2 separate regions of the Homo sapiens genome follow, and region 2 is linked to region 1. Evidence: fine-mapped expression QTL. A gene starts in region 1. The other region holds a variant in brackets. All regions are shown on one strand. Distances are from middle to middle. Region 1 holds the start of LRIT3 (leucine rich repeat, Ig-like and transmembrane domains 3). Region 2 holds the start of RRH (retinal pigment epithelium-derived rhodopsin homolog).

What was found.
Region 2: its variant is fine-mapped to the expression of LRIT3 in whole blood (TOPMed, PIP above 0.99).

The regions. Positions count from the first base shown.
Region 1 is chr4:109,838,931-109,855,489 of GRCh38, reverse strand. It overlaps LRIT3 (leucine rich repeat, Ig-like and transmembrane domains 3), which reads right to left and starts at 7,383. Exons shown (of 4, transcript NM_198506.5): 1 at 7,173-7,383; 2 at 3,514-3,986. The coding sequence starts at 7,288. It overlaps RRH (retinal pigment epithelium-derived rhodopsin homolog), which reads right to left. Exons shown (of 7, transcript NM_006583.5): 6 at 12,843-13,021; 7 at 10,548-11,407. The coding sequence ends at 11,293.
Region 2 is chr4:109,821,477-109,835,150 of GRCh38, reverse strand. It overlaps GAR1 (GAR1 ribonucleoprotein), which reads right to left. Exons shown (of 7, transcript NM_018983.4): 5 at 12,663-12,804; 6 at 11,118-11,186; 7 at 10,414-10,733. The coding sequence ends at 10,720. RRH (retinal pigment epithelium-derived rhodopsin homolog) reads right to left here and starts at 7,179. Exons shown (of 7, transcript NM_006583.5): 1 at 7,018-7,179; 2 at 1,822-2,012. The coding sequence starts at 7,123. The variant G/C (reference allele first, on the strand shown) is at 10,453.

The DNA of each region.
Region 1 (16,559 bases):
TGGTTTTTTGAAAGGATCAACAAAATTGATAGACCGCTAGCAAGACTAATAAAGAAGAAAAGAGAGAAGAATCAAATAGACTCAATAAAAAATGATAAAGGGATATAACCACTGATCCCAAAGAAATACAAACTACCATCAGAGAATACTATAAACACCTCTACACAAATAAACTAGAAAATCTAGAAGAAATGGATAAATTCCTGGACACATACACCCTCCCAATACTAAACCAGGAAGAAGTTGAATCCCTGAATAGACAAATAACAAGTTCTGAAATTGAGGCAGTAATTAAATAGCCTACCAACCAAAAACAGCCCAGGACCAGATGGATTCACAGCTGAATTCTACCAGAGGTACCAGAGGTACAAAGAAAGAAAAAAAGAAAAACAGGAATTCATTTTATGAGGCCAGCATCATCCTGCTACCAAAACCTGGCAGAGACACCACAAAAAAAGAAAATTTCAGGCCAATATCCCTGATGAACATTGACATGAAAATCCTCAATAAAATACTGGAAAACTGAATCCAGCAGCACATCAAAAAGCTTATCCACCACAATCAAGTTGGCTTCATCCCTGGGATGCAACGCTTGTTCAACATATGCAAATCAATAAATGTAATCCATCACATAAACAGAACCAGTGACAAAAAGCACATGATTATCTCAATAGTCGCAGAAAAGGCCTTCTATAAAATTCAACACCCTTTCATGCTAAAAACTCTCAATAAACTAGGTATTGATGGAATGTATCTCAAAATAATATGAGCTATTTACGACAAACCCACAGCCAATATCATACTGAATGGGCAAAAGCTGGAAGCATTCCCTCTGAAAACCGGCACAAGACAAGGATGTCCTCTCTCACCACTCCTATTCAACACAGTATTGGAAGCTCTGGCCAGGGCAATCAGGCAAAAGAAATAAAGGGTATTCAAATAGGAAGAGAGGAAGTCAAATTGTCTCTGTTTGCAGATGACATGATTGTATATTTAGAAAACCCCATCATCTTAGCCAAAGCTGAAAAGCAACTTCAGCAAAGTCTCAGGATACAAAATCAATGTGCTAAAATCACAAGCATTTCTATACACCAATAATAGACAAACAGAGCCAAATCATGAGTGAATTCCCATTCACAATTGGTAAAAAGAGAATAAAATACCTAGGAATACAATTAACAAGGGATGTGAAGGATCTCTTTAAGGAGAACTAAAAACCACTGCTCAAGGAAATAAAAGAAGATATAAACAAATGGAAAAACATTCCATGCTCATGGATAGGAAGAATCAATATTGTGAAAATGGCCATACTGCCCAAAGTAATTTATAGATTCAATGCTAACCCCATCAAGCTACCATTGACTTTCTTCACAGAATTAGGAAAAACTACTACTTTAAATTTCATATGGGACCAAAAAAGAGCCCATATAGCCAAGACAGTCCTAAGCAAAAAACAAAGCTGGAGGCATCACGCTACCTGACTTCAAAATATACTACAAGGCTACAGTAACCAAAACAGCACAGTACTGATACCAAAACAGATATATAGACAAATGGAACAGAACAGAGGTCTCAGAAATAACACCACACATTTACAACCATCTGATCTTTGACAAACCTGACAAAACAAGCAATGGGGAAAGGATTCTCTATTTAATAAATGGGGTTGGGAAAACTGGCTAGCCATATGCAGAAAACTGAAACTGCACCCTTTCCTTACACCTTATTAACTCAAGATGGATTAAAGACTTAAATGTAAGACCTAAAATCATAAAAAACCCTAGAAGAAAACCTAGGCAATACCATTCAGGACATAGGCATGGGTAAAGACTTCATGACTAAAACACCAAAAAGCAATGGCAACAAAAGCCAAAATTGACAAATGGGATCTAATTAAACTAAAGAACTTCTGCACAGCAAAAGAAACTATCATCAAAGTGATGAACAGACAACCTACAGAATGGGAGAAAATGTTTGCAATCTATCCACCTGACAAAGGGATAATATCCAGAATCTACAAGGAACTTAAACAAATTTACAAGAAAAAAGAAAAACAAACAACTCCATCAAAAAGTGGGCAGAGGATATGAACAGACACTTCTCAAAAGAAGACATTTATGCAACCAACAAACATATGAAAAAAAAGCTCATCATCACTGGTTATTAGAGAAATGCAAATCAAAACCACAATGAGATGTAATCTCATGCCAGTTAGAATGGCGATCATTAAAAAGTCAGGAAACAACAGACGCTGGAGAGGATGTGGAGAAATAGGAACGTTTTTACACTGTTGGTGGGAGTATAAATTAGTTCAATCATTGTGGAAGACAGTGTGGCAATTCCTCAAGGACCTAGAACCAGAAATACCATTTGACCCAGCAATCTCATTACTGGGTATATACCCAAAGGATTATAAATCATTCTAGTATAAAGACACATGCACATGTATGTTTATTGCAGCACTATTCACAATAGCAAAGACTTCGAACCAAATGCCCATCAGTGATAGACTGCATAAAGAAAATGTGCCATGTACACACCATGGAATACTATGCAGCCATAAAAAGCATGAGTTCATGTCCTTTGCAGGGACATGAATGAAAGTGGAAACCATCATTCTCAGCAAACTAACACAGAAACAGAAAACCAAACACTGCATGTTCTCACTCATAAGTGGGAGTTGAAAAATGAGAACACATGGACACAGGGAGGGGAACATCACACACTGGGGCCTGTTGTGGGGTAGGGGTCTAGGGGAGGGATAGCATTAGGAGAAATACCTAATGTAGATGACAAGTTGATGGGTGCAGCAAGCCACCATGGCATGTTTATACCTATGTAACAAACCTACAAGTTCTGCACATAAAGTATAATAATAATAATAATAAAAAGAACCAGAGAAATACACATAGAACCTAAACAAGACCAAGTTCAAAATTCCAAAACTAGTCACAGCTAAACTAAGAGACCAAATCAGTTAGGAGAACCATTTGGGGCCAGTAAAATAACTGGTGTTTCCACCATTTCTTTTTAGATTAAGGAAATTTAGAAGCTATTCTTCCTAACTAATGAAGCCACTGCTATCGCATAAAGATGCCAGTGCCCCTCTCCTGCTCCTGAAGAACCTAATGAAGAGTTGAAAAGCAAACTGAGCAGAACTTTGTACCAGAGTATGGAGCAATGCTGTGCTCACAAGAGTCTATGCAGTTGGTTGATTCTGTCTCTCAGCTGGATGCTCTTTAAGAGAAATGGTCCTCTCTCCATTTATGATGCAAGTTCTTCTCCACTTTTCCACACATGTATGTACACACATGCATGCACACACACACAGCTCTTACACCTTACACAGGAGAAAGGGTAACTTGACCTAGGTTAACTAATAAGGTACTATTCCAGTAAAAGTGCAATTACAGAGTAAAAAGCCAAATCCAACAAATTTTAAAAGACTGGACAAAAAAAGCTATGCATAGCAAAGTAACTATAGATGAAAAGCCCAGAGGCTTGCGAGCTTACCAAGAATAATCCTGCTTGGGGAAAGGTCCAGGACTCCAGAAGGTGTTGAAACTAAATGAGTCCAGCTCTCCAGGAAATCTGGTGGCAATGTGGTGAGTCTGTTGCTTGATAAATCCAAGTAGGCAAGGTTCTTCAGATACCTGAGCGCCTCATTTGGCACACTGGTTATTTTGTTATTGTGCAAGTCCAGGGTCCTCAGAAGGGGCATGTCCAGCAGAGATGCCCAAGGGAAAGCAGCCAGAGAATTCCCATCCAAGCGCAACTCATGCAGTTGCTTCAGGTTGTAAAAGCTGCTGGGGTCAATGCTGGCCACGGAATTGTAAGTCACCCAGAGATACTGGAGCTCCACCAGGTAATAGAAGGCCTCCGCAGAGATTCTGCGGATGACAGTCTTCTCTATGCGAAGCTTCACAGTGTCCACGGGGAGGTTCGTAGGCAGCTCGTTCATATCCATGTCATTACATAGCACCAACCTAGTGTCACAACATGAACAATGTGAGGAAACTCACTTTCCAACACCCATTTGAAAAAAATACTTCTCATTTGAAAAATGTATCAATTTTCAGCTGGGCAGTGGCTCACGCCTGTAATCCCAGCACTTTGGGAGGCCGAGGAGGGCCTTGGTTCAAATCTAACCAAGGTCTAAGGTTTGCCACCTCCTCTGTGGCCATGGAAAACCACTTCACCAGTGTCTCAACCTCATTTTCCCATATGGCACTGTTATGGATGATTAATTACAATGGATGTAAAACTCTACAACTTCCTGGCACAGAATAGGTACTCAGTAGGTATTTGCTGCTACTGTCAACAACCTCGGTTTTACATGGAAAGTAACTGAGGCCCACCAACATTCAGTAACTTTCCAAGGTCACCCAGCTAGTGGGTTTCACAGCCACCTTTCAAAACCACTTCTGTCCAACTTAAAGTGCACCTCTTTAGGAAATGGCCCATTTTAAAAGAACCCCCTGTTAAAATAATAAATCAATCCTTGTTCAGAGAATAATTTATTTAGGTGAAAAAAAAAAGTGTTCACAGTACATGTTTAAAGTTGAACTCTGTTTTAATAACGTGACTTGCACATTGCTTTCTGCCTAAGGAATAAACCAGAAATTAGGAGTTGACCTTGAGCAAGTCACATTTTGATCTTGTTTGTTGGCACATATAAAACAGGCATAGAAAAACAACACTGGGCAATGTCCCAGCTGGGCAATGTGGCTCATGGCTGTAATCCCAGCACTTTGGGAGGTCAAGGTGGGCAGATCACCTGAGGTCAGATGTTTGAGACCAGCCTGGCCAACATGACGAAACCCCGACTCCACTAAAAATACAAAAATTAGCCAGGCGCGGTGGTAGGTACCTGTAATCCTACCTACTCAGGAGGCGGAGGTGGGAGAATCGCTTGAACCTGGGAGGCAGAGGTTGCAGTCAGCCAAGATCACGCCACTGCACTCCAGCCTGGGTGACAGAGCGAGACTCCATCTCAAAATAGAAAAGAAAGAAAGAAAGAAAGAAAGAAAGAAAGAAAGAAAGAAAGAAAGAAAGAAAGAAAGAAAGGAAGGAAGGAAGGAAGGAAGGAAGGAAGGAAGGAAGGAAGGAAGGAAGGAAGGAAGGAAGGAAGGAAGACAACACTGTCCCATGTGTAAATTTAAAGTATGAGGAATCTGAGAATTTAGATTCATTTTAGCCTGGAAAAAGACTTATCTCCTATGAGATACTCATCTGAATTATGAAAAATGAACAATAAGAAGTTTTGCAAAGTATCATCTAAATTATAGCACACTATAAATTTAGTAAATAATTACAATAAAATAACCCTTTAGTGAAACATATGACATTAAATCAGTGGATTTGAAAAACCAGCTCATAATGTATACACACGTAAGCAGCATAAAGCTGCAATGTAGTGGTAGTGTTATGTCCTTTCTATAACTTCAGGAAAAGACCTCATGGAATCTTTGAAATCCTCTAGGGATATCTCTTACTTTTCATCTCTATTTTATATCACAGATTTCAGTACTACTTTATACCAGAATGGTAGCAGTTTCTACTCATTAAGAAAGTATTGGCCGGGTGCGGTGGCTCACGCCTGTAATCCCAGCACTTTGGGAGGCCGAGGTGCGTGGATTACCTGAGGTCAGGAGTTTGAGACCAGCCTGGCCAACATGATGAAACCCCATCTCTACTAAAAATACAAAAACTAGCTGGGCATGGTGGCACACGCCTGTAATCCCAGCTCCTTGGGAGGCTGAGGCAGGAGAATTGCTTGAGCCCGGGAGATGGAGGTTGCAGTGAGCCGAGATTGTGCCACTGCACTCCAGCCTGGCTGACAAAGTGAGACTCTGTCTCAAAATAAATAAATAAATAAAATAAGTATCTCAGCATGCTATCATAGAAGAAAGTCTAGTTTGTACGCTAAAAGATCTAGCATCTTTATGAACTTAGTTACTACATCAACACAATTATATGATCTAGGACAAGTCATTTGGTCTCCATACAGTTTAGTTTCTTCACTTATAAACTGACAAGGGGTTGAACTAGATTATTTCTTGCCAGGCCTAATATTCTATAATTTTTATAAAATCCATCAATAATGGGGTCACCACAAAGAAGGAAACATTTCTGTGATAGTTTCTCAAAAGTACCCTGGCCTGATCCTTCACTGCTACACGTCCCTGGACAAGTAGGTCTTTAACTTGCTACATTCTCTTCATTGTCTTTAACCACCCAGTGAATATCTCAAAAAATACCAAGAATTGGTTAACTAAAGTTTATACAATAACAAGATAAGCTTTTCACAAATATGTCTTATTTATTATTATTTATTTGTTTAAAGTTATAAGACATAAATTGGGCAACTCTTTTAACAAATTATTTTATCTGAGACACCGTTTACTTCAACCAAGTCACAAATAACCTGATTTTGTTATTAAATAACCTCTCAAAAAAAAAATTCAAGTTCTACTGTGTTTAGCTAGCAAGAGTTCTGTTTTGCATTTAACATATCTAAAAGGCCTCATGCACAATATAAGTAAATAACTCTTCTCACTACACAAGTAGATGCTAAAGCAACCTAGAGATTGAATAACTTCTGTGAGATCCTGCAGTGTCTGAAACAGACAGTATCTTTTTCAATCTTCTTTATTTTGTAAATTCCATCAGCTTAAAATGAAAAATTCTAACTATTAACCTCTCTAACTTCACTCTTGAGATCTTTCTTTCTGCCATTCAATTGGCATGAATAGTTCTCAAAGGAAGTGGAGAGCCATGAAAGCAAAGGATCTGAGCATGTCACGCAGCTCCTGTTCAGCCTGCCCTCTTAGCCTTTCTATAATCAAGGGCTTAGCTGGCCATGCACCTTTAAATCGTTTGATCTCAAGCAACAATTTGTGAACATGAGCATAATAAAAATTTTGGAACATAGAATGTGTTTAGAAATTTCCAATACCTTGAGAGGCCTTTGAGAGTTAAACTGCTCAAAACGAAAACAGTGAAGGAGTAGGTGACCAGTGTTAAAACAATTAAGTTAAAGCTTATGGACACTAAACATTCTCTTCTGTGATTTCTGATCCCCAAACATTTGCTTTCAAAAGTAGGCTTTCTTGTTTGGGTCCTTTTTGTCAAAATAATGAGAACACTTAGTAACAAGCAGAGGAGCATACCTTGATCCTGAGCCGTCATTTCTGCCGTGATAATCACAGGTGCACTGTGAAGGACACAAACAGCCCACTCCTTCCAAAAAGCTAAGGACAATGCACAGACATGCAAAGAGATGCATTGCTCCTTTTAGAGGTTATTTAAACAAAAGGTAAAAACCGAATCCTAAGCATTCAGAACCTGGTATGCCTGGAATACAAACAGCCATTTAGTAACAGCAGATTACACGGGATTAGCTGAGATCTGTAGTTACTTAACCTTCAAGTGTATCTTGCAGGAGATCAATTGATCCAGCCTTTGAATACAGTTTCAGCAAAGTAACACATTCTAAGGAAAATGAAAATCAAACACATGACAAGCAATTTCAATAGTTACCCGTAACTAGATTTGCAAGAAAATGCCTATTAAATCCCTTTCTTCTGGATGTACTTGCCACTACACCTTAAAAATATACTTAATGTAAAATAATTCAGTCTTGGCAGATGCAAGAAAATTCTGTAGATTATTTACATGTTACAACATTATAAAATGTTTTGCATTTGGTTTTTGCCAGAATGTGTTACTAATTCAGTTTTACAAAATTTAGTTTTAAAAATAGAAGCACATGACATAAAAATGATTTAGAAAAGAGTTATCGATGTTGCCACATACTGGCTATCTCTAAAAGTAAAGTAAAACAAGTCAGTTACACAGATTTTATAGGGAAAATGCTTCAATCCACTACTGATGTGGCAGGACTAAGTTCTCCAATAAGAACGTGTTCTGAGACTCTTCCAGGTCATCTCAGTGTGTGGAAGGTTTATCCCAGCACATTTATTTTTAATGCAGGCAACTATCTCTGTTCAATAGTTTCCCAAGTTATCAGCATCAAAGCCATATTTGAAGATCAACTCTAATTCTTTCAGCTATATTAGGCTCTGTCAGAAAATAAAAATTAAATGTAATTAAATTTAAAAGTATCTCCACACTCATAGAGTGGAGAATCCACAGGGACAATCAAGGATTTAAGTAATAAATATACGTCATTTAACCTTCTTAGTGGCTGCTTCTAACCATCCTCTTTAACTAAAAACCTTTTTAAAAGAAAATTAATTCTATAAAAATAAGCATATTATAGAAAATGTTATTTAAAACCAATAGAATGTATATAAAAACCATACAGTCTGAAAAACTGTGCTCAATTAAAATAAAATACTGCAGGTTTTCAGATTCTGCACAACTCGTTTGTTCATCAAATATTTACTGAGTACTTATTCTCTGCTGAGCATTGAGGGGTACAAAGATAAATAAGACAGTTATTACACATAAGGAACTCACACGATAAAGGGAGGAACAGACTACTAAAGAAGCACGAGAAAAGAGCATCAAACCCAGCCTGTGTTAGTCAAGCAAGACTTCCTAGGGTGGGTGGTGCCTGGCTGCCTTTTACAGGGTGCATGACGATGTATTATGGGAAAATCCAGAAAGTTGCATTGCAAGCAAAGGGAATAGTGGGAACAAAGGGAGGGAAGTGAGAAACAGTGTATTGTCCTCAGAGAATTTCAAGCACTTCTTGTTGCTCAGGCATAAGATTTTGAGGCAGGAAGTTAAAAAAGATAAAGCTGGAGAGATAAGCGGGGATGAAGTTATCAAGGAAACCCTTAGATTCCCTATGGAGAGCTTACTCTCAGCCTACAGGCAATGGGAGCAATAAAAGTTAGGCTTGGGAGTGGCATATCAGCTTATCCTTTCAGGAAGAATTCTCTGGCGGCTGTGTGGAGAAAAGGTTTAGACAGAGCAAGCAAGAAGAAAGGAGGAAGCTTCTAGATAGAGCAAGCAAGAAGAAAGGAGGAGGCTTCAGGTGGATGTCTGTGGTTATAGTCCAGGTGAGCAGCCATTAGGCTACAGCCTTGACTGCTGTGCTAGTAATCGTTAGGATAATGCAGCTTCAGGAAACACCCAGGAGAGAGAAATGATTGATTAGACGTAAGGATGAAGAAGGGATTTAAAAACAACCCTAAGGTTTCCCAGTGCTGGAGATGCAGTGAGAGGTGGTGGCCTCGAGTTTTTGAGCACAAGAGGAAAAAGAAATTGGATGGGTAAAGCTCTGATCGCCAAGTGACCAAGGGTTTTTGAATCATTAATTTCATGGATGTTATGACTTACATGGAAGCAAGACGTGCCAAATTGAGCATAGAAACGCTGTTTAAAGATAAAAACATCAGAAATTAGCAAACTAAGAGGTCAGAGGGAACTATGTAACCAAAGCCAGGTCTTCCTAGTTTTATCATATAAGCAAATTAAAAAATAAATAATATAGCATTGAAATATAATTACTGTACACTGTTGAAGTCCTTTATATTTGAGGCAAAGTTGCTTCTTGCTTATCGCTGGAAATGAGTTCACAGCCTTGCAAATTGGAACTCTGAGTCCATTTTTCTAGACATTATTACAGAAGTTGTCCTGGCCTTTTAATGGCTCTGGGACTTTGGGTGCAGATTTCACTATGCTTTCCCTGTAAAAAGGCTCGGCTATGATAGACAGGATGAGCGAAGACCTAGTGACACAAAGCATTCAGAGCTCTCTCGGAACACTAGACATTTTAATTTGGCCATGAAGAGAGACAAAAAGCTGAAAAGTCCCTCTTGAAGTATGTTAAAGAGGGCCTTGAAAATCCAGCTGAGGGGTTTATACTTACTTGGTGGGTGAGTGAAGGTTTTTAGCCAAAGAATTTGGGCATTGGAACTTTATTTTTAAAAGATTAGCTATGAAATTGTATTGATTGAGGTTGTATTGTATGAATTGATTGCAGTGGGAAAGTCAGAGAGTTAGGAGATAAGGTAGATTACTATGACAGTTTACCTTTCCATATACGTAGAAGACTGTACACATAAAACTAATACCTGTATTTTACTTAATATGTAGCCAAAGGTGCTAAAGAGACAATTTATAGGAAGAAAAAATAGAGATTAAAAAATACAATATGCAAAGATACACAGCCTCACTAGCAGTTAAAGAAATGTGAAATAAAATGACTTTAAGTTAGAGTATATAACTCATAATTTAAATATATACAGGACTATGAGCAGGAATATGCAGTGAAAAGCTCACTTAGACACTGCCAGTATCAGTGAAAACTAATTCAATCTTTCCATAAAGCAAGCTAGCAAAAATAATAGTGTTTTTGTATTTGTATCCAGTATTTCTAGTCTGAAAAGAAACACTCAAATAGAATAACTTCTCCAAAAGAAAAAATATATTTGCACTGAAATATTTTCAGTGGTATATCCATGAAACTAAAAACTGGAAAGCAATTTAAATGTCTACTATTTAAACAATGGTATATTGTATTATGCTTAACAGTCATTTAGAATGACAAATATGTGAAGTCTACAAATTCATTTGACATTGAAAAAATATTTATTGAGTGCCTACTACATGCCAGACAGAATTGGGTATATGTGCTAAGGATACATCAAAGAACAAACATATAAAAATCTCCACTCTGATTGAAGTTAACTCTGTTGGCAAATATATGGAATATATATGCAGAAAAATGGTACTCAAAATTGCAGAAAACATCAAAATATGCACAGGGGTCATAATGCTATATAATATATATGCATTGACTTAACATTTTATTTAGAAACAATCATGTTTAATGTTCATTTATTTTTGTTTAATAACATAAGTTAATTGATTTAAATGTTAAAATGTTGAAATTCAAAAAATGCTTTCTATTCTAACTGGGAACATCCAACAACTCATTTCAGTAATTATCTAGAATTATTCATTTATTCTAACATTAAATTAGTGACTGCTTTTATTCTAATGGAGGAGCCAGGCAAGTTAAAGGTCATCAGTACAGTGTAATGCATGCCATAATAGGGAGAAAGAAAGGGGACCTTAACCTCTGATGCCTAATTCATCAAAGGAGATGAGCAATAAGTTGATATATCAGGACACAGAGAAGCATACACTACAGCAGCCAGAGTGCACAAACAGAAGCACGAGCTGTGCTTGAGGAGCTTACACTCTCATAGGACAATGATCCATGTCTGCACTTGATCTAAATGGGCTCATATTTAAAAGAAAAGCATTGTCAAAAAACTAAAGTGTTTTGATAGTGTGTCCTTTTATCTTATTTCAGATTCTTCCAGAAGCCAATGGGTTTTGAGATACATCCATGGGTAAAATACTTGTCACAGGCATTGTTTGGTGAGTCTGACATTTGAACATGGCAAGCATTGCCCTCCGAAACCTACGATAAAAAAAGGAAAATCTGGCATTAACCCATAATGATTTGGAACTTCTAAAGCATTTTCAAATATGGCTAAGATGCCACTACTGCCAATTTACATCTCTGGATAAATTTCTGCCTCCAACTTTAACATGTCCTGTTGAGAACCTTTATAAATATATAAAGTATATGGTACAGTTAAAGCCCATTTTGCACTATTGATTCTATAGATTTCCTGTTGAGAAACTTTATAAATATATAAGGTATATGGTACAGTTAAAGGTCAATTTTGCACTGTTGATTCTACAGATTGAAGACATCTACTAAAAGTAAATAATTATATGTATTTAAAAGGATGCTACTAATGTCAAGTGCCATGAGTTGTTTATTTGAACTAACAATGTGTATTTCATCCATCTGTTCTTCCTAGCAAGAATTTTCCAAAAGAACTACCAGCAGATTCTGAATTTAAAATGTGTTCTTCATTCTTCTTATGTGGTCTGTTTGGTCTGTAAAATTTTATGTTTCTTCACATACCTGTAGCTAAAGCTGCTTTTCCAAACATTGCCATTCCAGGATAAAATTACCTGACCTCGGCTGGACGCGGTGGCTCACGCCTGTAATCCCAGCGCTTTGGGAGGCCGAGGCGGGCGGATCACGAGGTCAGGAGTTCAAGACGAGCCTGGCCAAGATGGTGAAACCCCATCTCTACTAAAAATACAAAAATTAGCCGGGTGTGGTGGCGGGCACCTGTAATCCCAGCTACTCGGGAGGCTGAGGCAGGGAATTGCTTGAACCTGGAGGCAGAGGTTGCAGTGAGCTGAGATCACACCACTGCACTCCAGCCTGGGTGACAGAGAGAGACTCCGTCTAAACTTCACTGAGGAGGCAGAAAAGGAACATTTTGCTAAGAAACCCAAAAAAGAGAGGAGGTAAGAATTCTCTAGTATCCAGATGCCTTTTATGTTGGGACTAAACTTTTCCCTTGCATTTGAATGATATGTCTTATTTCTTGTAAATATACATCTGTGCTACCCACCAAGTGAGCCCAATGTTGCCTTGTCCATTTTCCAGTTATAGAATCCCTCTTTTCTTTGGAAACCACTATTCCATGTATTTGGGGTGGGGGTAACCATTTGAACTAAGCTGACCACTGACATCCCAGGCTCTTTTCTGCCAGAGAGCCATCTGAGATGCAATTGGCATTTGGGGATGCTTAGCTGGTAGAACTTGGGTCTGGGGTTGCCCACAATCATCTCTGCCACTGTGTGGGAAGAGTCTGTAACAAATCTGGAGCTCTAAGCATTTAAGGTCCTAGATGCTGCTCCAGTCACATGAGGCAAATGACCTTTATGCTAGATTGAAGTGGGTTTCTGTCACTTCTCTCCCAAGAAGTCTTAACATTCTTTTTATATCAGTTTTATTTTGTACTGCAAGCATTTTAGACATTACTTACTTTTTATTAGCAACCACATAAATGCAGGGGTTATAGAATGTAGAAGATTTTGCAAACAGTGGAGCTATGATGGCCATGGGGGGAGGAATCTTCTTTGGGTCACCAAAAGAAGCCCATAAGCACACGATGGAATAAGGGGACCATGCCACCAGAAACATGCAGATCATGATCACAGACATCTGAAAAGAAATAAATATTCACCAAGCCCAATACCTAAAATATTTAAATATTAATATATCTAAAGTTGGGTAAAAATCTATCTGGGTTGGAATTTGAATATGTTTATGTTTTTGATGACATAAAGGAAATAGTTGAGTTTTTTTTCTGCCTTCAATGTTCTTTTTTCAAGTGCCTGAAGTCCTCGATGATAATAAGACCTTGTGAAATGGGTATATCAAGAATATATAACATTGCTTTTAAGAATGGTACACACACATAAGGAATGCCCTCTTTCTTTCTGCGTGCTAGGGGAGAGTACAAAAGCTGACTTTGATGAAAGACAGATAAAAACCCACCCCACCCCACTTCACATCATTATGCTATGAACTCCTGGCATGGCTATTATTATTATTATCACCATCATTATTATTTGCTCTTACTGGGATTACCTGCTAAATTAACAAAAGTAACTTTCTAACTTTCTAAACTCAATCTGGAAACAAATACAATCCTATCTTGAGCTCAGTGAATTCTAACACAGGCCATTTCTGCTGGATATATGTTACACACAATGCAGACAATTTTGTAAAGGAGATCTCTTGCATCTTGTTTAAATGGAAAAATTATATTTTTATATTGCTTCCCTAGATTGCCTGCTAAAATTATGGAACAGAGGTTAAAGAAGACATAAAACCATAAGGACAGAGAATCAGAGATTAGATAATACATATTTTTAATGGAAAAAATGGCCATTGGATAAGTGGCAAATTATGTAAGAAACATGAGAATAATTTTATAAATAAGTAAATAAATAAACGTTAAAAAGAGCCAACTATGAGGGAAAACCAGATACAGACCAATCCATACTACAGAGCTACAGAAATTCTAGTAACAAAGGGTACCAGAAAACTCTAGATGTGGGGGTGCACATGGAGCTCAAAATAGAACTGGTTGAAATCTACAAAGAAAGTAGACTTCCAAATCTTTACCCCTGTCCACTCAGTCTACTCAGTAACTTCCCCTTCCTCTCCCTAGAAGACTTCCAGAGGCTCAGTATAAAGAAAAAAGAAGGCTAATTTGGGAAACTCAGAACACAGGGACACCAGGTTCAGCTAAGCACTTCAGTACTGTATTGAAAAGAGGGGTACCTGTATGCTGCTCCCTCCCTGCACTGAGTGTGAAAAAACTTGGAGATAGACTTGTGCCTCCCACCCAGGAACATGAAAGGAACTGATCTGCCCAGAATAAAATACCTAAAGATATAGTTACCTAGACAGTTAGAAATTCCCCCAAACCTCCATTCCATCATTTTAGCAGGCAATCAGGAGGGAGCAACATGAAAAATATAATTTTTCCATTTAAACAAGATACAAGAGAGCTCCTTTACAAAATTATCTGCATCATGTGTAATATATATCCAGCAGAAATGGCCTGTGCTAGAATTCACTGAGCTCAAGATAGGATTGTATTTGTTTCCAGATTGAGTTTGGAAGTTAGAAAAAAAATTTTTTTGATTAGCAGATAATCACAGTGAGAGCAAATAATAATAATGATGATGGTGGTCATAATAGTAATAATAACTACAGAGACAATTAGAAATTCCCCCAAAAGAAACATCTTGCTAATGAGCATCTCCATGCTTACAATCAACATTTTTAATGCATTACTCTTAAGTATGAAGGGACAATCACTGACCACCAGACATTAAGAAAACTTTTACATTGACAGGCAAAGAAAAAAAAAAAAACAGTGCAAGAACTCAGGGGAAACAAAAATATGTGGTAAACAGAAGGAAGTATAAATATATACATAATATCACAGAAATAACAGGAGATATACATCCATAAAACAAGGAGAGAATAGAGTATAAAATAGCTGTTTTATCAATAAAAATGGTTTTTAACTCAAGAAGAGAACCCAGGCAATACCATTCAGGACATAGGCACAGGCAAAGATTTCATGATGAAGATGCCAAAAGCAATTGCAACAGAAGCAAAAGTTGACAAATAGGATCTAATTAAACTAAAGAGCTTCTACACAGCAAAAGAAACTATAAACAGAGTAAACAGACAACCGACAGAATGGGAGAAAATTTTTGCAATCTGTGCATCTGACAAAGGTCTAATATCCAGCATCTACAAGGAACTTAAACAAATTTATAAGACAAAAACAAGCAACCCCATTAAAAAGTGGGCAAGGGACATGAACAGGCATTTCTCAAAAGAAGACATACATGCAGCCAAGAAACATGAAAAAAAAAAAGCTCATCACTGATCATGAGAGAAATGCAAATCAAAACCACAATGAGATACAATCTCATACCAGTCAGAATAGCTGCTAATAAAAAGTCAAAAAATAACAGATGCTGGTGAGGTTGTGGGAAAAAAACACTTTTACACTCTTGATGGGAGTATAACTTAGTTCAACCATTGTGGAAGATTGTGTGTGGCAATTCCTCAAAGACCTAGAGACAGAAATACCATTTGTCCCACCAATTCTTTTACTGAGTATATACCCAAAGGAATATAAATCATTGTATTATAAAGACACATGCACATGTATGTTTATTGCAGCACTATTCACAATAGCAATCATGGACATGACATGGAATTAACCTAAATTCTCATCAATGATAGACTGGATAAAGAAAATGTGGTACATATACACCATGGAATACCATACAGCCATAAAGGAATGAGATCATGTCCTTTGCAGGGACATCGATGGAGCTGGAGGCCATTATCTTTAGCAAACTAATGCAGGAACAGAAAACCAAATACCTTATGTTCTCACTTATAAGTGGGAGCTAAATGATGAGAACACATGGACACACAGCGGAAGCAACACACACTGGGGCTTGTTGAAGGGTAGAGGGAGGGAGGAGGGAGAGGATCAGGAAGAACAGCTAATGGATGCTGGGCTTAATACCTGGATAGTCTGTGCAGCAAACCACCATGGCACACGTTTACCTATGTAACAAACCTACACGTCATGCACATGTACCCCTGAACTTAAAATAAAAGTTGGAAATTTAAAAAAAATGGTTTTTCTCCTATCTGTAAAAGTGAGAGTAGAATGTAAAAAATGTTACAGAAAGGTTGTATGATATTATCAGGCTGGGAACAGGGGGAGGTGAATCAGGTGAATTATATCAGTGCAGGGTCGGATCCTGTTTTTATTTAAAATTTCTATTTTGTTCAACATAATTTTTACATTAATATTGTTTTTTAAGTACTACATTAAACCACTTTTTTTATTAATGAGTTTTTTGGTGCTTGCTTGAATTTTGCACCCAAGGGTTGGCCTTCACTATCCTCACCCTTATCCTAGACCTAGATATGGTTAAGCAAATCTCCCAGAAAGTAGAAACAAAAAGAAACAAACAACAACCACAAAAGAAACAAACAAAAATAGACAATATAGGAGAGAAAATTTAAGAAAATTAGAAGGTAAATCTAGCAGATTAAATATCTAAATAAAAGGAATTCCAGGGAAAGAGAAGAAAAGAAAAAACAGAGGGACTGAAATAATCAGAGAAATGATACTAGAAATCTCCTA
Region 2 (13,674 bases), 19 kb after region 1:
ATTTTAAGACTTACAGTGAAATTTCTTTACAACACTCTATGAACAGAGTGCAGAACAACCACAAACCAGCAAAAGACTAGTATTCAGAAGATGGGTAATTCAACAGGAGGAAAAGACAAACTCAATAGAAAAATGGCCAGATGATGAACGGGGTATTCACACAAGCCCATTAGCATTTGAATGTTTATAACATAAGACATACAACCACAATAAATATTCAAAGAAATACTGATTATAAGATGGCATTTCACACTCAAGAAAATGAAAATTTAAAAGTCTGACAATCCCAAATGTTAAGGAGAATGTGGAGTAATAGATGTTCTCATAATCTGAATAACTATTTTGGACAGCAATTTGGCTACTTCTGATAAAGTTGAAGATGAACATTCTCTACAACTTAACCATTCCACTCCTAAGCAATGTGGCTAAAGAAACTCACATATTGCAGAAGGAGACATATGTAAGAACATTTACTGAAGCCTTATCTGTGACAGAAAAAAAAATGGGGGTCCGGGCGCAGTGGCTCATGCCTGTAATCCCAGCACTTTGGGAGGCCGAGGTGGGAGGATCATGAGGTCAGGAGATCGAGACCATCCTGGCTAACACGATGAAACTCCGTCATTACTAAAAAAAAAAAAAATACAAAAAAAAAAATTAGCCAGGCTTGGTGGCAGGCACCTGTAGTCCCAGCTACTCGGGAGGCTGAGGCAGGAGAATGGTGTGAACCCAGAAGGCAGAGCTTGCAGTGAGCGGAGATCACGCCACTGCACTCCAGCCTGGGCAACGGAGCGTGACTCCATCTCAAATAAAAAAAAAAAAAAAAAAGGAAAAGAAAAAAAATGGCAACAAAGGTCCAATAAGAGTAAAATGAAAATGTACATTGGGCTTTCTACGTTCACAAAATGGAATATTATATAGCAGTTAAAATGAATGACTTACAGTCATATCCATCAACATGGATAAACCTCAAAAACATAATATCTAACAATGAAAGGAAATCGCATAATGCAAACAATATGATATCATTTACACAAAACCTGAAGTATTCAGACAGTATCTGGTTTATGTGCACATATATTAGAGAGAAAAACATTCATGGGAGGAATAAGATTGAAGATGGCATGCGGTGGCCTTCATCATTATCTGTATAGTTTTATATCTTTAAAAAGAAAAACAATCTGAAGCACAGATTGCGAAACATTAAGATTTAACAAAACTGGTTGGTACTTACGTGGTTATTCAGTATTCACTACTACTTTCATTTTATTCTCTATAGTTTTTAGGTTATGATAGTAAACTGCTAAAAGAATTAGCCTAAAAGTAATATTTGCTTACTGTCTTAAGGCAAATTAATATTAACTCATTTCCTTTTTACTAAAAAATAACATTTAGTAACAATTCTTATGGAGGACTTTCTATAGGAAAAAATTCAACAACATGGTAGCTTAACTATCTTCCATAATATTATGATTAAATCACTACTTTATTGTTTCAGATGAAAGCAGGTTATTTTTTTTAATTTGCAATATGCAAATATTTATTTGAATATGCAAATCAGCACTCTTCTCCTTTGGTTGAATGCTAGTTATTTTGTTTGTTTCTTCCTTTGAGTTGGGAGAATTTTGAAAATATAACAATGGTTGGTGATTTAATTTCTCTTATTAAAGAATATATTCCTAGTCACTTCTGTTGTTTTCCATAAAAGCACTGTATCTATTATTCTACAATATTCAATTTAAACTCTTGGGATTCGTTTTAGACATTTAAATTTACATTTATTTGATCTATTTATTTTGCTTTCATTCCAATGATCTCCAATACCTGACAGCCTGCGTATCCAAATTTCCAACTTCCATACAGATCTGAGGCAGCAGACATGGGATAGCCAATGCTACTGACCCCTATATCAGTAACAGCCAGGTTAATAATAATTGCATTTGTGGGTGTCCGAAGTTCCTTGTACTTAATGAAGATGCCCAGAACTATTATGTTGCTGATAATACTTATCATACCTGAGAACACACACAAAAATATGATGCATTTTGTTTAATTTGAATGTTTCAAAGTAGACTCAAAATTAAATATTTAAGCCCCTTTAAAAACATAACAGATCTATTTTAGTTCATTTATTTGAAGAGCTCCTGCTGTTCTTAAAACTGTATGTGACATCTTCACATCCCTTCTGTGAAACAGAAATGAGAAAATTAAAACACAAAGAATCTGGTAATTGCACAAGGCAGCACTGAACGTTGGTTTTAATGTCATTGCTATTGAGTGTTCTGTCCTTGAAACTCCTTCATTGGCTTTCATACCATTCCTACTGATTTTTAGGACAAATATATGACTGACCATGCCCTCTTTTTGTCAGCTTAACTTCCTCCTCTTCCTTCCTGGGGCCTGGGGCTCTTCTTTTTCGATAGTTGCCTTTCTCAAGCTTCAATTATCATTCTATCCTCACAGCACTTTTGTCACTATTTTCAGCCATGACACAAGCTCCAGTTCCATATCTTCTTTTTTCATTGAACTCATTGTCGTTTACTAAGCATCTACCATATGTAAGCTCATATGACTATTCCAGTATTTCTTGAAACTCAACATGTCCAAATTCTTCATTCCAACACACACACACACACACACACACACACACACACACACTACCCCAATAGAAGAATGCATACTACAAGACTTGACTATCCAGAGAGGAAGTTGAGCCAGCTTTTTGGTCCATAGAGAAGCCTCACAGCTGATACCACCTTAATCAAGTTTCTGGAAATCAAGTTTCCAGAACCTCAGTGTTGTCAGTGCCCCAGATTGGTTGCACTGAGGTAGACAGATAACTAAACTTATTAACCAGAATGCCACTGTTTTATTTTACACTGAGAAATACTGTCGAGTGTACTGGATGTGCATGTTCAACATCCCCTACATGCTGTAAAGGGCATAAGCCAGATATGGGCATACTAGATCCTAAAGGGGTGTGAGGGGGTGGGGTGTGAGTAGATTTCATCCAAGAAGCTAGAATCATTACTGGATTGTTAGAGACTAAAGGAGGGTTGTGCAACAAGCAGGAATAGAGTTGAGTTCCCCATCAAGAAAAGAATTACTTGGTGATCAATCCCCAACTATTGTCAGAGAGGGACAGTTTCCAAGCACCAACATACAACATCAGCTCAGTAAAAACTTTTAACATATCTTGGCACTTCAGTCAGAACTTCTGCCTTAGCCTGTTAAACTAACCTTCCAGATTCCTGTTCTTTTCCTCTCCTTGCTTCTGGCAGAATCAGCTTGCTATAACATAGACTTAACCATGGTTCTTCTCCTCCCGAAAACTTGTAGTATTTCCCACTGGCTGTGGGATAACAATCCAAATTTCCCAACCTGATATTCCAGGCTCTTTGCCTCATCTGTTGTCACTCTCTAGAAGCAAATTTCTACACTTGTCAAGTGAACTCTCCATTCTAGTTTTTGCCCAGATACACCATGCTTGACTCATATTTCTCCCACTTGGAGCACCCTGCTCCTTCTCTTTTCCTATCCAAATGCCATCCATCCTTCAAACTTCAGTTCAAGCCCCTAAGCCTTATCCTACCCACACTATCCTCTCCTCCCTAAATTTCCAAACTACTTGCTTATGATTAACTGAGTCTTATGTAACACTATATAATTTAACTGTTACTTTTCCTTGTCTTTTCATGTGGATTTCAGGCTCCTCATGATTTCTGTGGTTTTTGAATACGTGACATACAGCAGATTTATTTAATAAGTGGGCTACAACTAAAACCCATATTGCTTAATTTCTATCATTCCTTCAAGATAATTAGCACACAATGACAGCAAATTTGATGATTCTTTGGCCCTATTTTTAGCATCTAGGATTGTAGCATGTATACAAGATATACTCCGAAGAATTTAATGAAATGAAGACTCTTTCTGGGCTAGCTACAAATTCAATGACTTTTTAAAGTTAGATAAAAACAGTGCAGTAAATTGCTGCCTACCAAGTACGCAACCAGAATAAAGGAACTATAATTCTGGGAGTCTTAGAAATAATGGGGGTTATGAACTAAACAGTTTAGCCCTTTTCTCTATTCTCTCTGCAGCTGTACCAAGCACACTGCCTTGTTTCCACAGCTGTAGGTCTTCTAATGAGTATACAAAAGATCACCTAGTTGTTAGATTTTAGTTAAGTCCCATTTCACAGTCAGTCTAAACACTAAGTAGCACTTGATGTTGATTTCTCCTTCACTCTTGAAACATTTTCCTTCTTGTCTTCCGTGACTTCCGTGCAATCTCTTCAACAGACCCTTCTTGATCTACTTCCTGGCCTTTCTTTCTCCATCTATGTCTTATTAAATATGTGCATTGTCCAACCTTCTGTCCTAGATCCCTTTCTTTTCACATTTAACACATACTCTGAGTAATTTCTTCATACCCAAGGCTATACCCTGATATTTTTCAGCCTCCGGACACTCAAACCCATGTGTCCAGCTTTTTATTGGACACCTCTCAAACTGAACTGAGAGACTTTTTCTCCTGCCTCAAACCTGTTCTTCCCCAGGTGTGTTCCCATCTGATGAAGAGCATCACCATCTATTCAGTGGCTCAAAAAAGAAACCTAGGCATCATCTTTGATACTTCTCTCCTTCTCCCACAATCCCAACATCCAATCATCAATTCCACCTTCTGGCTCTTGAATGTATCTACTTTTTTCTGTCCCCACTGCGATTACTCCCTCCTCAGAATCACTGCAATGGCCTCCTATGTGGTCCCTTAGCTACCACTATAGCACATTTCTAAAACACAAATCAGATCATGTCACTCCCATTTCAAACCCTTCAGTGACTCCCTGTCACCTTTAAAACTTACACGGCTCATCACTGTCTGGTACTCAGCCATCTTTTTCAACCTCTCACCCTTCATTTTACAGTTCAAACATAATGATTTATTTCAGATCCTCAAATTCACCATGTCCTCTTACCTCCCAGCCTTAACTGGGGAAAGGGAGAGTGCTCAAGGACACTAAATTAACAAAATGTCTGTTGCACTGGAAGTTGTAACAGTTTATAGGAGCCAAACTATAAATGAAAGATCAAATTAAAAATTAAATAAAAAATCTAAATAGGCCCTTGGTAAAAGTAACGAATGAAATAAATGCTTTCACTACACCCTTTCCTCATAGTTTTGGTTTTGATTTGCAACTTTAAGTGAGTTTTGTTAAAGGAGGAAAGTTAGGGGATCTAAAGAAAAATAGATGCTTGATACAGGGGCAGAACAAAAGCATAAAGAGTTCAGCTATGCTTCCTTCAGTGGATCCACCAGAAACACAAACAACACACACTCATTGTATACCTTGATAAAGCTGACTCTTGGATTTATATGTGAGGGCTCTAGAACCAAAATGCCTGGGTTCAAATCCTGGTGTAGCTGCTTAGTAAATGTGTGTGCTGGACAAGTTTCTTAAGCTCTTCATCTGTATAAACTAGAGAAATAAAACTGAAGAGTAACTTACTAAATTAGTGTAAGGATGAATTATTCTGTATGTGTAAGGTTTTAGAACAGTGCTTGGTATATAGCAAGTATTCAAATGATAACATTAGTAGCAGTAGTAGTAAGATTACTATTATTATTACTGTTACAGAGATAAGAACTAAATAGAATATTTTCTGCATGCTAATTTTGTAACCAGGTCAAAAAAGGATAGTTTTGGTTGTTTTTTGGATTTTTTTTTTTTTTGGTCATCTACAAATAACTAACTAAACCAAACACTTGTATACAAAGTATTTCCATGTAATTGTTAGGAGATTTTCTCAGTCTTTTTTGCAATTACAAAAAAACTAGAACTTGTCTAGTACTTATCATAGAGGTATTCAAATGAACGAGATAACGTCACTAAAATCGCAAAACTTAACTGAGGAACTCAATTTCCAGTACTAGAAGTAATACGCTGAATTATAAGGAAGAAACGTAAACAATTATAAACTGGGTATAGGATGGTGTGTTATACTTTTCACTCTACTTTTGAATGTTTGAAAATTTTTATAAAAGTCAATCCAAAAAATAATGAACTCAATATAAGAGTTACTTCTACAACTCGTTAGAGTATAAAGTTGAAAATTAAGTGATTGCTCAATATAAAAGTTACACAATTCAATGATACATTAAAAAGATAAAAAGTTTCTGTCATTCCCCCATCCCTTTTTTTCTGCAAACAATCCTTTACATCAATGAGTGTGTAGGGAGGAAAGGGAAAAAGAAACAAATATTTGTCCAACACCTACTATATGGCATTTATGTGTCACTTAATTTTACTCCTTATAACAATCATGACAGATAACTTATTCTTATCCTTGTTTTACAGATGAGAAAATGGAAGAACAAAAAGGGAAGATACATGCTCACAGTTGCAAATATACTAAAAGATGAAATCCAAAACTCAAGAGTTTTCCAATAAGCATTCTGGAACAAGCTGAATTTTCAGACTCTGTCCTCAATGACAATATACCCTGCTCTGTCTTCTTAGGACTTTTTCTTTCCAGAACCTTTAAGTTCTTAGCTAAATTCTACCACCAAGAACAAAAATATGAGGGTTATGTATAAGAATAGTAAATGACATAAAAATATGTTTTTGCCATGGTGCATACTCTTCTCCAATAAAAACTTTAACAATCCAATAATCAAATACATAGATTTTTATGAAAGAACTATTTATCACATAGAAAACTTTTCTCAGCCCCACTTCACTGCTCTTATTTACCAAAATTCAAAATAACCTGTGGCAATGGCCATCACTAACAATGCTTTCCCTTATTCTTTCACCCACATTATCTTATTTGATCTTTACAGCCCAGAAATAGAGTATCATCATCCTCATTTACCAACGAGCAAGCCAAGTCAGGATAAATGACTTGTCAAGGTTGGCCAATAATATGGAACTTGAAACAATGCATGCCTTATGCTGAAAACTTCTGCCTTTCTTCACCCATTCTAAAGAAAAATAACTTACTTAAATATCCATACCTGCCATAATCAAGTAAGTTGCAACAATATTGTGTTCAGTCTGTGAAAAGACCGAGCCATCTTCATTTTTAGAGTCTGAACTGTTGCCTAAATTATTTCTTAGCATTTTGGAGGGAAGATACCGAAACACCCTTCATAATAAGCCTTCGATAATTATGAACTGCTTTATGAGCTACTGAGGAAAGATTTTTTAGGACCAATCATTTCCACTTAGAGACCTCAAAGAAGGGCCTTTTCATAGAGGCCCTCCCTTAACAAATTTAATTGGGCTAAAGAGGAAAGGACTTTAATTCCCAGAATAAGGGAAAAGCTTATTAGCAAAACAAAAAGAAATACCAAGCACCACACATTTTAACCTATTTGGGCATCAGTCTTCTATCTAAGGAGATTATCAAGCACACACATCCCATTTAACAATAAACAAACTCAGGAAATCAGTATAGGAGCCAGCCTTAGTCCTCTAAAACTATTCGGATTAAGGTCCCTGTTTTCTGTTGACCATTCAAGTCTTTCCATTTCGGCTCCTTTTGTTGTTTTTTTTTTCTTAACAATTTAAATATTAGTGACAAAGAAGTAGTCTCCTTCCTACTTCCAAATCTCACTCTCCTAAAGGTACCAGTATTGTTTGGTGCATATCCTTTCTTAGGCTTTTCTCTGCTTATACACATATTCATACAAGTGTTTCAGGTTTCCTCCACTTTCTTCTTGTAAATAAAAATGAGGGAAAAAAATAAGTACAAATGTATATATATAATGCAACTTGTTTTCCCATAAGGCTGTATTATAATATCCAAGTTAATAAACCCAGAATCTAATAAAGTCTAATTTATTAGTAGCTATGTATTTCATAGCATGGATATAATATGATCAACTCCACCATCCGTTAATTTCCCCTATAGTTTGATATGCACATGAGTAATTAATATTATCTGATGATAGTAATCATTGTATACTTTGCCAGAGTATCTGAATTCAATCACTGATATTGTAAAGTACAGAATAAAAATATTCTGGATTATCACATTACAACCTGAAAACCAACCTGAGCATGTTTTGTTAGAATAATAAGGTATCCCTATTACCTTTTTTCCCATATTCTTTATGCCATTAACATTATTAAAATCTGATTCTCCTCAGTTTCCTAAAATCAGTAAACATTAGAGAAATGCTTAGATGCACCAAAGTTAACAGTGTAAGCATAAAACAGAACCACTAGAGGGCTATATTTACCCACTTAGTTTAATTTTATAAAAATCCTAGAATGGCACAGCAGAAACCTAAGATAATCCTTTTGCTTCAGTTCTCTTGCCTGTGTATAAACTCAAGATGAACAGGTTGATTTATCTGTCCCAAATCTTATAGCTACCAGTACTCACATTTTTATAAATGTAATATTGTTATACCTATACTAGAAAAGCGAATCTCGTCAGTATTGTTTTCAAATGACCCTAGAGCAAAAAACATAATACCCAAGAGGAAATCACTCCCTTTAAAAAGTCTTTGTCTTTTCTTTCATTCAATATGCAAAACAAAACTTAAAATTTTTGAATTTGCTTTGGGTCATACTACCTTCCTTTTCTGTAATAAGTTATACCTAGTTGTAGCATCCATGAAAAATTTTCCAGAAATAATTATTTCTAAGAACTGAAAAATATATAATTTCAGATAGTCAGCTTTCTGCTGCAGATGAAAGTTTTGATATGAGTGAGGTAGGTGCATTTGAAGTTCTTTTTTATGCTTCCTTCATGGGTGATACAGAAAAGCTATATTGGGATAAGGCTTAGAAATACATGTGAATTTGATTCAAAATGAAATGCCTCAAAAAAACCCAGAAACTAGGCCAGGCGCAGTGGCTCACACCTGTAATCCCAGCACTTTGGGAGGCCAAAGCAGGCGGATCACCTGAGGTCAGGAATTCGAGACCAGCCTGACCAACATGGAGAAACCCCATCTCTACTAAAAATACAAAATTAGCCGGGCATGGTGGCGCATGCCTGTAATCCCAGCTACTTGGGAGGCTGAGGCAGGAGAATCGCTTGAACCCGGGAGGTAGAGGTTGCAGTGAGCCGACATTGCACCATTGCACTCCAGCCTGGGCAACAAGAACAAAACTCCGTCTCAAAAAATAATAATAATAAATAAACAAATAAATAAACCCAGAAACTATAAGGAAAAAAAAGGAAAAGATGTGGAAATAAAAGCTTAAAGATGGACAATGAAAAAAAGATATACATAAGCTAAACGGTAAAATTTCCAACTGGTTTGTCTACTGATCTATATGTTATTTCCATTATTGCCATTTTAGATTTATTTTTAATGTTAAAAAAACAAACTGTAGAAATGTTGCGCTATTATTATTTGTCCTTGGGACAATGCCATCACCCTTTGGTGCTTACTAACATCTTTTCCAAACCACGAGCAAAAGCCCTGGCCCTAACACTCCATGAAAATTTCATCACCACAATTCCAAATCAAATAATCTCCTGTCCTAAGCTGTAAAAGCATAACTGCCTATTCCTGTAAAAACTGTAATTTTCAACACATTTGCTCATCATATATATTAATGGCCTATGTATTTATTCATCCTGCTGCAATTCCATCAATCAGAAAAAGATAAAACCCCAAATACTGACAAAGACAACACTGTATGCTCCTCAAATGAGCATTCAAGAGCGTTCCTCCATGGGCATGTTAGAAAATTTAACAAACGATATAGAAACATCATTCCTTTTGAGAAGTGAAAAATGAATGGCAGGGTAAATGGCTCCATATCATGGCATTCTAACTTGCTACCACAGTCATTTCTTTACATCCACTAGCAATGGTGACCAAAACCAATTTCATTTCTAACATCCTTACCCAGCAATCTGAACATGTAGTATGCAATCGAATTCGTGTAGTATACTACACGAATATTTACGTGTAGTAAATAACACCTTAAACTTTTAGAGTCCCTTTAAAAAAGTAAAAATAAAATAACATTCAGTAAAACTTCTAATATTCCATTTATGTTGGATGAGAAAAATTAACTTTAGAAATTTCTTGCTATAGTTTTCACTTCAACAGAGCTACTGCATCTTTAATACATTACTAATATGGAAAATTTTTAAATCAATTATTAATTGCAATTAGAGAAACAGCTTAACTGATTTATGTATTAAAATACAAAAGGCAAATACAAAGCTATCTTCTCATACATAAAAGGCCAGGGTTTTGAAAGGCAGTGTCAACTTGTAAATTATCTTAAAGTACTGCTACAGTAGTCTATTTTTTAAAAGATCAGTAATATAAATAAACAAATCCTTTTTTCGATCTGCAATTCACTGGGTTTAAGCTTTAGTTATTCCTTTCTACTTTAAAAAATGGGTTTCATTTAATAAACACACTCTAAATAACTTAAGGGAATAAAACACTTTATTTTAAAAATTCAAATAT[G/C]CTTCAAATGAAAACTCCTATCCATTTATTGAGCACCCACAGAGTGCCAGGCACTGTACAAAACATTAGAAAGACTTGTTCATGCTCTTTTAGAGCAAAATTCACTATTCCGTTGCACTTTGCATGATGCTGACATTTTAGATCCATTGTCATAAAATGACCAAGATCTTCAAGACTTGTTCAAGAAACAAGTTTCCAATCCATAGTAGAAACAGATCATGCAGGTTAATGCAGAAGTCAACTGGTGATGTCTGTCAACTGTTTCACTTAATGTCCTCTCCCTGATTAAGAGAAAATTAAAGTATTAAGGGCACAGAAAATGGATTTTTAATAGTATTATAACCTAAATCTCAAGTTTAAAATCAGCATTAGTTCCAATAATGTTTAGCAAACATACTTTACCAAATTTAACTGTCATTCATATTACACCTTTATTTTTCAAATTAATAATAAAGCAAAACAAATTAGAATTAGGTGAAAAAATTGAAAAGAAAAGGCAAAAAAAAAGTGATATAAAATGAAACCACAAATTAGGCTAAGCAAAGAACACCATGGTGTTCTATATACTTGCTGGCAGAGAAAATTAAACTTAAGTAAAAACAGAAAATGCCAGATAATATCAATTTTAAACATTAAGCAATTTAAAGACTTTTTAAAATACTCACCTCTGAAACCACCACCTCTTCCTCCTCTGAAGCCCCCACCTCCACCTCCTCTTCCACCTCTAAAACCACCTAAAAAACATTTATTAAATAATAACGCAAAGTATTTAAATAACAATAGAATATAATAATCATTAAGTTATTAACTGTATAACCTCTTATATTGATAAGCCTAAAAAGATCAATACAATAACTATAATTATAATGAATAAATATAGATTCACATATTTTATCAGGGAAAAAATTTTAGAAGATAAAAATGGAGAAACTGTAGTAGTTTACCAACTGGGCAACAGGCTAAAACCCCAGATTATTCCATTTCAATAAATTAGAAAAACTTGTTAAAGTATGATTCAGTCTTGTTAAATGTATGACTATTGCCTTAGCTCTTGCTTATGATAAATACTTTTTTGATTCAACTAAGGATAGTTTGATGGAACTGTGGCTTTTTATCCTAACAACAAAGGGTGGCAGATATGGGTGCTTTTGCTCTGGGGGTAAGATAATAAATATGATAGTTAAGATTAACTGAGCTACATAAGTAAGATTTTAAAAAAATAAGACAGCTGTGAATTTTTTGAAATGTTAAATGATACTCAACATAACATGAGAATAGGGGAATCTCTGTTCATCAAATTCTCAAGAAGGTACCCCTGAGAATTTTCCTACCTATATGGACACAAAAAAATACCTTTATGGAGTGAAATGGTGATTAAATTGAGAAACGCCAAAAGTGAGGCGTTCCTTCTCTTTTTCTGATCCAGTAACAAAAGCTGTCCAAGCCCAACTTTCAGCTCCTCTCCCTTTCCACTTTGGCTCTGCCCATCACCCCATCACTCGCCCTTCTCCTACTCACAGGGCATGGCAGCCCCACTCCCCAGAGCCCTGCTCATCACCTAGCTGTCCATAATGATGAATGTGCCCAAACCTTAGGGGAAAGGCATACATCAAAACAGGCATACATCAAAATACCCCAAAACCTTGGGGGAAAGGCATACATCACAACAGTGAGATCACAGTAATGAATTTATTAGTAATAGTTCTTGACATGACATCAGAAGATATGCATTTTAATTCTTGGGTCTGCCAATTGTTTGATTGGGGCAAATTAATTTCTGTAAGTCTCCGTTTCCTCATTCATAAAATAAGGATATCATCTATCTCAAAAGGTTTCGCTGAGTATTAAAAATATATACATGGAAATTAAAAGAATGTATGACCAGCTTTCAGCATGCAGTCTACACTCAATAATATTAACTAAGGAATTAAAATTAAGATAATCTTACGGTTTATTAAAATGTCCAAGAAAACATGAATAACCCAAAGAAATGAAGTCCCTCAAAAGTATACTTTAGTAGATTTTCTTCTTTTTAAGTAAGTTGTTGAAATGAAGCATTATTATTATGGACAATCTGCCAATATTGGAAAGCAGCTTTAATAAAAAGAACCATAAGGGAGGTTTGCTATGTACAAAGCTAAATTGTATTGTATGAATTAGCTGTGAAAGTCACAGTTAATTTCATTAGAAATTTTCCCCAAGTAACTTACCGCCTCTGCCACCACCTCTGCCACCTCCTCCTCTTCCTCCTCCTCGGCCTCCCCTGCCACCACCTCTTGGAGGTCCTTTCTCACCTGGAGGTCGAGGTAAAAACCTCTGCAGTGGCAGCAGCTTATATGGGTCTATATAAAACTGGAAACATAATAGAAGCAATTAGTATACAACTTGGGGGACAGTATAATATAATCATTAAGAAGCTACATGATAGAGTCAAAACTGCCTGGGTTCAAACCCCAATCCTACCACTTTCTACTACATATCCCTGGGTAGAGACTTAATTTCTTACTAACTTAGGTTTCTTTTTTTTTTTTTTTTTTTTTTTTACCTTAAGTTCTGGGATACATGTGCAGAACGTGCAGGTTTGTTACATAGGTACACATGTGCCATGGTGGTTTGCTGCACCTATCAACCCATCATCTAGGTTTTAAGCCCCGTATGCATCGGGTATTTGCCCTATTGCTCTCCCTCCCCTTCCCCCCATCCCCCGACAGGCCCAGGTATGTGATGTTTCCCTCCCTGTGTCCATGTGTTCTCACTGTTCAACTCTCACTTACGAGTGAGAACATGTGGTGTTTGGTTTTCTATTCCTGTGTTAGTTTACCTTAGTTTCCTTATCTGTAAAATGTAGAGAATAGAGTATCTATCTCACATGTTTGTGTGATGATCAAAAAAGTGATGTATATAAGGCACTTGTACTTTGGCACACAATAAGCATTACATGCATATTAAAAAATCAAGACCAATTCAATATCATTTCTCTTTAGAAATAGATTATTTAACATTTCCACTCAACAGAACTGCCGTAAGAAAAATAAAACTATTAAAAAACACAGCATTAAAATTCAAAATAAAGCATTCGCATACTAGTTGTTTCAAGTCTTTAATAAAGGATCAAAAGGGTATCTTCTGAACACACAAAGTAATGAAGGATATACAGAAACTATACCCATCCTATAATTGGGGTTAAAGAGGACATTTCTCAAATAATGAGATGTAAAGAGC